Homo sapiens: one gene and its partners. The protein of the gene in region 3 purifies or fractionates together with the protein of the main gene of each other region. This does not show direct contact. Each region holds a gene or a part of one and is shown on either strand. Other genes may lie near its edges. The genes, in order: CRCP, SRFBP1 and RBM26.

Region 1 (3,737 bases), on a different chromosome or scaffold from region 3:
TACCAGTTGTGTTTCTGGGAGCTGAAGAAAAGGAGGAGAAAGAGATTGGGATAGAAAAAATATTTCAAAAATAGCTGAGAACTTCACAAATGTAGTAAGAAACATAAATTTACATAATCAAGAAGCTCAGCAAAAATAAACTGGGGAAAAAAAAGCTGAAATATATCATTATCAAATTATTGAAGACCAAAGACTTGAAAATCTTTTTTGAAATTTATTTAAATTTTTTTTTTTTTTTGAGACGGAGTCTCGCTCTGTCCCCCAGGCCGGAGTGCAGTGGCGCATCTTGGCTCACTGCAAGCTCTGCCTCCCGGGTTCACGCCATTCTCCTATCTCAGCCTCCCGAGTAGCTGGGACTACAGGCGCCCGCCACCATGCCCAGCTGATTTTTTTTTTTTTTTTTTTTTTTAGTAGAGACGAGGTTTCACCGTGTTAGCCAGGATGGTCTCGATCTCCTGACCTCGTGATCTGCCAGCCTCGGCCTCCCAAAGTGCTGGGATTACAGGCGTGAGCCACCGCGCCCAGGCTAGTGAAGTGAAGCAGTAGGAGTAGAGGGGGATAAAAAAAATCTTAACAGCAGCCAGAGGAAAATGACACATTAGGGTTAGAGTGATAGCGGATTAAAATTTTTTTTTAATTAATTATTTTTCAAAATATAGAGATGGAGTCTCACAATGATGCCCAAGCTGGTCTCAAACTCCTGGCCTCAAGTGATCTTCCCGCCTCAGCCTCCCAAAGTGCTGAGATAATAGGCATGAGCCACTGCATCCAGCCTGATCACAGATTTCTAATCAAAAACTGTGACAGCCAGAAGTCACTGAAATGACATCTTAAAAGTTCTGAAGGAAAAGATCAATCAACCCAGTGAAATTATCCTTCAGGAATGAAAGGAAATAATGACATTCTCAGCTAAATGAAAATAAGAGAATTTGTAGCCAAGAGACCTGTTCTCAGAAAAGTGCCAAAGGCAGTTCTTCCTGGTGAAGTAAATGATAAAAAGGACGCAGGGCACTTCAGGAATAGAGAGGAAAAGAAATGATGACAAAAAGACTATTTTTGTTCTCTTAAGTTCTTTAAAATATGTAAGAATACAGAAAGTCAATGTAAAAACACTACTAATAGTATGCAGATTATATGTTTCAATGTATGTAGATTATATGTTATAAATACAACCATAACACAAAAAGAAGGTAAAGAGACTTATATACACCAACTGGTAAAATATTAACTCTGGACTATAAATGGTCAGGCATGCATATTATTAACCCTACTAGTAACCTAGTAGGGATCCCTTCAGTAACTACTAAAAACAAAAATAAACAAAAAGATACAGCCAAAAGGCTACAAATCTTTTTAGCTTTATAGATATAGAAAAAGCAAGTGACAACATTCAACATCCAATCTCAGCAATCTGAACTTCCTAAACCTGGTAAAAGACATTCATGGAAAACCTAAACTAGCATCATACTTAATGGTGAAGGACTGACTGTTTTCCCTTAATATCAGGGACAAGATGAGGATGTCTGCTCTCACCACTCCTACTCAACATCATCCTGGAGGCCCCAGCCAGGGCAATGAAATAAGAAAAAGAAGGAAAAGCCATACAGATGAGAAAGAAGTAAAACTCTGTTTGCAAATACCACGACTTTCTGCACAGAAAATCCTAAAGAATACACTAAAAAAGTTCCTAGAACTAATAAGTGGATTTATCAAGGCTGGAGGGCATAAGATCAATATAAAGTCAGCTGTACTTCTATATCAGCAATCAACAACTAGAAATGAGCACCATTTACAATAGCACGCAAAATTATGAAATAGGTATAAATCTAAAAAAATTTGTGCAGAACCTGTATGCTACACTGTTTTCATGGACTAGAAGGTTCAGTATTGGCGGGTTGTTTTTTTTTAACCTTTGACTGATCTTAAATTATTATTATTATTAAATTTTTTTTTGAGACAGTCTCGCTCTGTCGCCAGGCTGGAGTGCAGTGGCGCAATCTCGGCTCACTGCAACCTCCATCTCCCAGGTTCAAGTGATTCTCCTGCCTCAGCCTCCCGAGTAGCTGGGACTACAGGCGCCCCCGTCACCACACCCGGCTAATTTTTTGTATTTTTAGTAGAGACGGGGTTTCACCATGTTGGCCAGGATGGTCTTGAACTCCTGACCTCGTGATCCACCTGCCTCAGCCTCCCAAAGTGCTGGGATTATAGGTGTGAGCCACCGTGCCCGTCCGATCTTGAATTATTAATATTGTCAAGATGTCAATTCTCCCCCAAAACTGACCTATAGATGTAAGGCAATCCCAATCAGAATCTCAGCAGGATTTGTTCCAGATATCAACAAGTCAATTCAAAAATGTATACATAGGCCAGGCACGGTGGCTCACACCTGAAATGCTAGCACTTTGGGCAGCCAAAGCAGGAGGATCACCTGAGGTCAGGAGTTCAAGACCAGCCTGGCCAATAGAGTGAAACCCCATCTCTACTAAAAATACAAAATTGGCCAGGCACGGTGACTCACACCTGTAATCCCAGAACTTTGAGAGGTCGAGGTGGATGGATCACCTGAGGTTGGGAGTTCGAGACCAGCCTGATCAACATGGAGAAACCACGTCTCTACTAAAAATACAAAACTAGCCAGGTGTGGTGGCAGATGCCTGTAATCCCAGCTACTGTGGAGGCTGAGGCAGGAGGAATCACTTGAACCCGAAGGCAGAGGTTGCGGTGAGCCGAGATTGCACCATTGCACTCCAGCATGAACTCACAAGAGTGAAACTCCATCTCAAAAAAAAACAAACCAATAAAAAAAAAACGGGCTAGTTTTCTTCTCATGTAAACTCTTGATGTATGACGTTTTCAATTTTAAAAGGTTGAACTCATTCCAGACCAAGAAAAGGAACTGGAAACTACAAGAACTCACAGAAGATGATCAAGCCACTTTTGCCTCAAGCAAACACAAATGTCAAAAGACTTCACTGATCAACTTTATAAAAAGTACTTTAACTTGTCAACCCTACTTTTCATCCAATTTGGTCTGAATTCTGGGAGTGGGGTTGATGCGATATGTCATACAAACTGGGACTCCAAGAAAAGATTTTTTTTTTTTTTTGAGACAGAGTTTTGCTCTTGTTGTCCAGGCTGGAGCGCAAGGGCGCGATCTTGGCTCACCGCAACCTCCGTCTCCCAGGTTCAAGCGATTCTCCTGCCTCAGCCTCCCTAGTAGTTGGGATTACAGGCATGTGCCAGCACGCCCAGCTAATTTTGTATTTTTAGTAGAGATGGGGTTTCTCCATGTTGGTCAGGCTGGTTAGAACTCCCAACCTCAGGTGATCCACCCACCTCAGCCTCCCAAAGTGCTGGGATTACAGGCATGAGCCGCCACACCTGGCCAAGAAAAGATTTTTAAACCCCATTAAGATTTGTTCCTCATGGCACATGTATACATATGTAACAAACTTGCACGTTGTGCACATGTACCCTAGAACTTAAAGTATAATTTTGAAAAAAAAGATAAATAAATAAAAAAAGAAGGAAGAAAGGTCTTCTGCATTTACCCATTCAAACCAGGGTTAGTACTTGATTAATATAATATTTCAATTCTGTCTTGTTTTTTCCCCATTTCTACATTATCACATTTCCTTCCTTTCAAAACAATTTAACTTATTTTACTAATATTTTGAGATCAGCTCGTGACATTTAATGTTCTCAATAATTAGAGAAGAATTACTTTGGTTAGC
Region 2 (3,500 bases), on a different chromosome or scaffold from region 3:
GCAATGCCACATTTGCCTAGTTTCATCAGAAAATGAGATGTTATAGCCAAATAATATGCCAGCTAATTTAAATTTTATTCCTTCACTTATCAAAGTTTTGAAACTTTGAAATCTTTTTTGATGAAAAACTTTTGAAAATGTTTCATGTATCTTTCTAAACAGAACTTTCTGAAAAGAATATGGTGTTTTTTCTTGATGATCCAGGACCATTATTGTAAACATCAGTCATTTTACTGTCTAGTACCATTTCAGTATATAAGGCTGCTTGCCCTTAAACTGAGTTTCTCCATACTGCTTTTTATTTGATGATGTTGCTGTCTCCATCTCTGTTGCTCACCACTTTTCATAGCTGTTCTGTTATAAAACAGTAAGTTTAACTTTATTTGTAATTCCAATTTGATAAAGGGTATCTTCACATTTTAGAGTGAAGGTTATGGTTAGCTAATTTCTTCAGTAACAGCTATAAACTGTTTTTGCATATATTTACAAGTCAGGGATAGTCTTTAATGAAATAGAAAAATGTGATGTAAAAATTTTTCAAAAATGTCACAGTATGGCAAAGACATAAAAACGTGTGGAGTGTTGAAATAATTAAAATATTTACTTATATTTTCCAAACTTGCCTCAAAAAGCTGCACTTTTTTCCACATTTGAAAATGGCACACCACTATCCCTTTACCACAAAATATAAATCTTTTTTTTTTTTTTTTTTTTTTTTTTGAGACGGAGTCTCACTCTATCACCCAGGCTGGAGTGCAGTGGTGTGATCTTGGCTCACTGTAACCTCTGCCTCCCAGGTTCAAGCAATTCTCCTGCCTCAGCCTCCTGAGTAGCTGGGATTATAGGCGCATGCCACCACGCCCGGCTAATTTTTGTTTTTTTTTTGTTTTGTTTTGTTTTCTAGTAGAGACGGGTTTCACCATATTGGCCCGGTTAGTGTCGAACTCCTGACCTTGTGATCCACCCTGCTCAGCCTCCCAAAGTGCTGGGATTACAGGCGTGACCCACCGTGCCCCGCCAAAATGTAAATCTTAATTTTTGTTATATGAGAGTCATTCTTCCTGTGAAAAGACTTTAGAAATTCTTTATATAGATAATCCCGAAGTGTAAAGGCAAGGTAACCAAGACAAGATATTTCCCATTACAAACAGAATTCTCTTTAAAGGTGGTGAGGGAAATAGGTCCTCATGTGTCTGTAGTAACACTGGATTCTAACAAACCTTTGTTTGATACAGCTACAACCTGGGACTTTCATAATTATTTTATTGTTTGCTGGTGTGACTAAGGAGTATAGTGGCCCTTTGAATTAGTTTTATCATCAATTTTGTTATGTTTTTTTCTTAAGATCAGAGGATTTATCTTTAAAAAGTCATAATGGTGTTTTTCTTCTTTTAGAAATTTCAAAGAACAGGCTCCAAAAACAAGATCCCTAGGTATGTATTCATAGTTGCCTGACCTTCATATGCAATTAAGCTATGTTTTACCAGAGTAAAAGAATGAGAAATTGTTGTTGCTTAATATAGCCTGAATGAATTATGTACCCACAGAAATGTTAACAGAGCATCTTACAATTATCAATATAATTTTTTGTTGTTGGTTTTCTTTTCTTCTGTGTCCTGCCAGAGGGAAAGATATAGACAAAATTTATCAGGAAATATTATGTCTATTTAACTTATCTCAAATTAAACCAACACTTTTTTTAAGTAAATTATGCAAGTTATATCTTAATTATTAGTGATCCTAAACGCTAATGCCATGCCGTTAAACATTGAATAACAAGTATATTACTTTCTTGGGCAAGAGTATAATCAGAATATTTTCAGATTAATTCGTAACAAATCTAAGTTTCATGTATTTGGGTAGAGTGACTTCTCACACAATCCTAGACTTTCACTAACTTAACATAGCAAAAATTCATTTCTCATTCACATCACAGTCCACTGTGATGAATTAGCAGAGAGGCTGTGTTCCACATAGTCATTCAAGGATCAGGCTTCTTCCATCTTTTGGCGTTTTCCTCCTCCAGGTTCCAAATATTCTCCATTTGCCAATAGAAGGGAATGGAGTACATGGAGAATTTTGCAGGTGTTTGTGAGCAAGGCCTGAAAGTAGCAGAAACCAGTTCTACTCACATATCATTAGCCAGAATTCAGTCACATGACCCCATCTAGCCACAGGGGAGCTAAGAAATGCAGTCTTACTATATATCTAGGAGAAAAGAGGAAGTGGAATTTCGTGAACACATAACTTTTTCTTCCAGTGACCAGACTTTCTATCACTGGATGGCCATTTCACTTTTCCTCCTACACAGAGCACACTTACCTCCTTCCCAAGGCAGCCAACCCAAAGTCACATCCAGTCACTGCATCTAGCTCAAAGTCCAGGATCACTGGTCATGGAGTATTTTCCATCAAATCTCATGGATGAGATTCTTCAAAGTCTGGTGACCTTTGTACCAAAAAGAAATTCATACCATGATATACCATGTATCGAGTAGCAGAACAGGGACAAAGTAATGACAATAAAAACTCTTGATAGCTTAAGGAAAAAATGGAAGGCACACAACAGGTCTACTATCTGAAATTCTGCTGAGCAAAGATTATGAAGGCTCTGAGAGGAACTTCTTTATCCATTGTTCTTCATGGTCCGTGTCTAGGGAGGGTCTTTGTTTCGTGGCCACATCTGAGGTGGGTATTTAACATGATCTCTTTGGAGTTTGCCCCAAGTCACTGGTACAAATATAAAATGATGAAGATTGTACAAAGTTCAGCAGAGGTTTTTTCCATCCCAGGCTTGTGATTTCTTTCACTATACACCTCCTCAAAAACTCAGTGGATTTCTGACCTCTGTTTCCTTCAGTCCGTCTGTGGGCTAGTTACCGTACTGAAAATTCTTTCTTTGAGCTAGTTCTCAAACTTGTCTTATTTGTTTGTGTTTTGTTTTATTTTTCCCACTTCCCGCTCTCATTCAGCATCTACTGCATTGAAAATTAATCAGATTTGGATGGGAGTGCCATACATTTAGTCTTATCTCTGCTCTAGGGCTGAGTTGCTGTGGGCAACTTTTCTTAGACTTACAGGTTACTGTTTGGGAGTCAAAGGCTTTTCTAAACCTTAAGTTCCCAAATATCTAGATTCTTTTGTTCTCTCTGTTCTCTTTTGTGTAGTGCATTGTCAAGGACAGCCAGTAATACGCTGATCTTTTTATTCTTTCCAGCCAGTTACCTTTGTACAGCAAACTCCATAGGCTTGTGGCCTGCTTGCCAAGTTATCACTGACAACAGTTTTACCTATTTCTTTGGCACATGGGTTGCTTACTTCTCATTCTCAGTTATCTGTTTCCTTGCTACCCACCACTGAACTGCTAAGCCAATGCCAAATTTTTATGTTATTGTAATGGTACTTCAGAGTACCAATTTTAGTATTATTCATAGTAGACTACCTGCTAAATCTCAGTGGTTTGTCATCTATCAGTCTGTCTGCTTCTAGGAATTTTATTCT
Region 3 (3,737 bases):
TTGCTTTTTGATTATTTACTATTCAATTTACTATTATTATAATTTACACTTTACTTTTTATGGTTATTTACTCCTACAATCAGACTAGTAATTGCAAATTCCTTTAAAAAGAAAACAAGAATAATTTCTCATAATAAAATATAGCTATTTCACTACTGGCCAATATTTGACTAAAAGAAATATGTCTACATGTTTATAACACAATGACAACTGCTGTTTAAGATGACAATCCCAAGGTACTTCAAGATCCTAGTTTTAATGTCTGAATCAATGTCTAAATTAGGATCAATATGCTAAATATATTTTATTTCAATTACTGTTCATTTACAAATGGTATATAATTATTAATCTTTAATAATAATTTTGCATGTGTAAAGTATATTATTTTCAAATTACATCAAATGACCAACTACCATAAAATGTTTATTATAAAACTAAAACAAAATATAAGTGTCTCAATGAAAGGAAAAAAAACCCCTCTGAACTCTTCTATTGAAAAACAGTTTTTCCTACCAAACTTTTATAACTGAATATAAAACGTGAACTTAAAAAATAGTCATGTCTAAGTACTTGCTATATTAAGTGGCTGGTTTGGAAACTGCATTCAAATTAGAGTAACATGAACTAAGGTAAATCAGTGTTAGCAACATATTGCCAAATAACTTATACTCACACAAGATTTATAATACAATCTCAAAGTACAGCATAATGTGAAATGTAGAAACAATTACATATTCAATGATATTTGACATAAGTTGTGTGGTATTAAAATCCCCAGGTATAAATTTTAAACCTGCACATATAAATTTATGATAAATTTAAAAGATTTCATGCCTGTTCAAATGCTGCTCAGAGAATTTTTGTCACAATGTCATACAACTAGAATTTTTTTAAAAAGTACTTATATGTATTTTAGTTCCAGGACAATTTGCAATTTTTTGAAGCTATCACTGTTACATAAAAATGTATCATATTCTATAAGGAATTCCAACTGTTTAATGCAAAATACCTACTCATAAAACTCATCCTTACATTCAGCTAAAAAAAATTCACCTAAAAAGCAAAAGAGTTACTGACATTTTCAAAAATAAGTTACTGACAAAAATTTCTGATGATCTAACTTTACACATCTCTATATTCAGCACACAGCTCCTCAAATCTATAAGATGAGGCTACAACTTTCTAAAGTTTCAACTTTAATTACAAAATGATTTACAAACTTTTTATTAACATTGCTCCATTACAAACTTGAGAATTAGGCTGTGTAAATTTTTGAAAGAACTGAGTTTTTGCTTTGTAAAGATGTAAATTTACTCAGGAAAACTAAGAACTTCTGATGTTATAAGAAACATATTCCATAATTACTTTCATTTTGATAAAACTATTGTTTTATATTAGAAAAGTTCAAGAAACCAATATTTCAGGTAATTGCAACATAAAATCTTTAAAGTTTAAACAATTCCTTCTGTAACCCACCCATTTCACTTTTTACAAAGATTCAAAATTTCAGGCCACGTAATGTAAAAAAGCAGTCCATGATTATCCCTAGCCCTAAGAGATAACCACTATTCTGTGAGGAATTCGGAGTTAAATCCTACATATATTTTTCTACACACATACTGAAAGAACTTCTGTATATAAATATGTATGGTATGTATACGGAAACATACTAGTTTATAACTTCATGGTTAAATTATTAACCCAATTCTTTTCATAAATATCTCTCGATGTCCATACCAATAAATGTCACTTTTCTTGAATGGCCATATATATTATATATTTAGCATAATTAAAGCAATTTCTACAGATATGAACAATCTTGTGTATTTGTACATCTTGTGTGACTTTCTATTAGAAGTGAAATGTTTGACTTTTTTCACAATCTGGCCTGCTTGTATTTTTCTAATTGAATGAAGTTTGGTGATATTTTGGGCAAAATATTTTCCCCGATTGGATTTTGATTTTATGATGCACCTTTTATTGGAGAGAAAGGGGTTGTTGTTGTTCTTTTGTTTTTGTCATCAACAAGTTTTAAATTTTTCATGTACTGGAATTTACCAATATTTTCCTTTATGAATATCGTGCCATACCTTAAAAAGCCCTCTCAATATTAAGACTATTTTTTTTAAATCCCTAGGATTTTACTATTTAAAAAAAAGAATTTTGTAGCATGTATTAAATGTTTTATGTATTAAAAAAAGAAAAAAAATTCATCCAATTTAATTTATTTGGATATTTAAAAAAGACATAATGCTGTCTTTTTTCCAAATAGCTAGTCAATTGCCCCAACATCATTTACTGAATAACTTGTTTTATTCCTTGATTTAAAACAACTCCTTTGTGATCCATTAAAATCCTCATAAAGTCAGCCACCACAGAACAATGTTTTGGTCAACAATGACTATATACAAAAGTGGTCCCCTAAGATTTTAATAAACCTGAAAAATTCCTATTGCTTAGTGACCTTATAACTATCATAATACATTACTCACATGGTGATACTGGTGTAAACAAACCGATTGTGCTGCCAGTCCAGTCATATAAAAGTATGGCACGCACAATTATGTACAGCATAATACTTGAATATGGTGGCAAACGACTGTTACTAGTTTACATATTTACTATACTATACTCTTTATCATTATTTTAGAGTGTACTCTAATTTTTTTTAAGTTAATTATAAAACAGCCTCAGGCAGTTTCCTCAGGAGGTATTTCAGAAGAAGGAACTGTTATCGTAGGCCTCAGCCTATAATACACACATTGCCTATGACAGCTGTGTGTGTGTTACTGCCCCTCAAGACTTTCCAGTGGGACAAGACGTAAAGGTAGAAAACGGTGATACTGATGATTCTGACCATGTTTAGACATAGACTAATGTATGTGTTTGTGTCTTAGTTTTTAATTAAAAGTTTAAAAAGTAAAACATAAAAAAATGTTAAAAATAGACAAAAGCTTATTGAATAAGGATATAAAGAAAGTATTTTTGTACAGCTGTGCAACGTGTCTGTTTTATGCTAAGTGGCGTTACAAGAGTCAAAAAGTTTTTAAAAATTGTAAAGTTTAAAAGTAAAAGCTAGAGCAAACTAAGGTTAATTTATTATTAAAGAAAGATAAAATGTTCTTATAAACTTAGTATAGCCTAAGTGTACAGTGTTTATAAGGTCTAAAGTACGAGTTTATAAAATACGATGGTAATGTTCTAGGCCTTTACATTCACTCACTAACTCACCCAGAGCAATTTCCAGTCCTGCAAATGCCATTCATGGTAGGTACCCCATACAGGTATACCATGTTTTATCTTTTATACCCTATTTTTACTGTACCTTTTCTATGTTTAGATATGTTTGCCTACACAAATACTTACCATTGTGTTACAAGTGCCTCAGTATTCAGTATAGTTAACACAATGCCAGAGTTTCGTAGCCTAAGACCAACGGGCTATATACCATAGAGTGTAGGTGTGTAGTAGGTTATATCATTTATGTTTGTGTAAATACACTCTGTGATGTGTACACAACAATGAAATTGTCTAACAACACATTTTTCAGGTCATATCCCTCTTAAGTGGCACATGATTGTATAAACTTAGGTCTATTTCTGAACTGTATTGTACTACATTATCTGCTTTGTACTGCTTTTAAACAGTACGAATAATTAATGCAAATAACTTTTTAAAGTATGCTATGGCAGTGCTTCAAGAGTTATGCATGTACTTTAAAATTCCATTAAAATATA

Evidence for each region.
Region 1: the proteins of RBM26 (region 3) and CRCP fractionate together in Homo sapiens (co-fractionation; one large-scale study listed by BioGRID). This does not show direct contact.
Region 2: the proteins of RBM26 (region 3) and SRFBP1 purify together in Homo sapiens (co-immunoprecipitation; one large-scale study listed by IntAct). This does not show direct contact.

The regions. Positions count from the first base shown.
Region 1 is NC_000007.14:66,135,294-66,139,030, reverse strand, and holds part of CRCP (DNA-directed RNA polymerase III subunit RPC9), read right to left. Parts: intron 1-3,737. UniProt on the Homo sapiens protein: DNA-dependent RNA polymerase catalyzes the transcription of DNA into RNA using the four ribonucleoside triphosphates as substrates.
Region 2 is NC_000005.10:122,020,975-122,024,474, forward strand, and holds part of SRFBP1 (serum response factor-binding protein 1), read left to right. Parts: intron 1-1,395; coding exon 1,396-1,433; intron 1,434-3,500. UniProt on the Homo sapiens protein: May be involved in regulating transcriptional activation of cardiac genes during the aging process. May play a role in biosynthesis and/or processing of SLC2A4 in adipose cells.
Region 3 is NC_000013.11:79,322,587-79,326,323, forward strand, and holds part of RBM26 (RNA-binding protein 26), read right to left. Parts: intron 1-3,737. UniProt on the Homo sapiens protein: May be involved in the turnover of nuclear polyadenylated (pA+) RNA.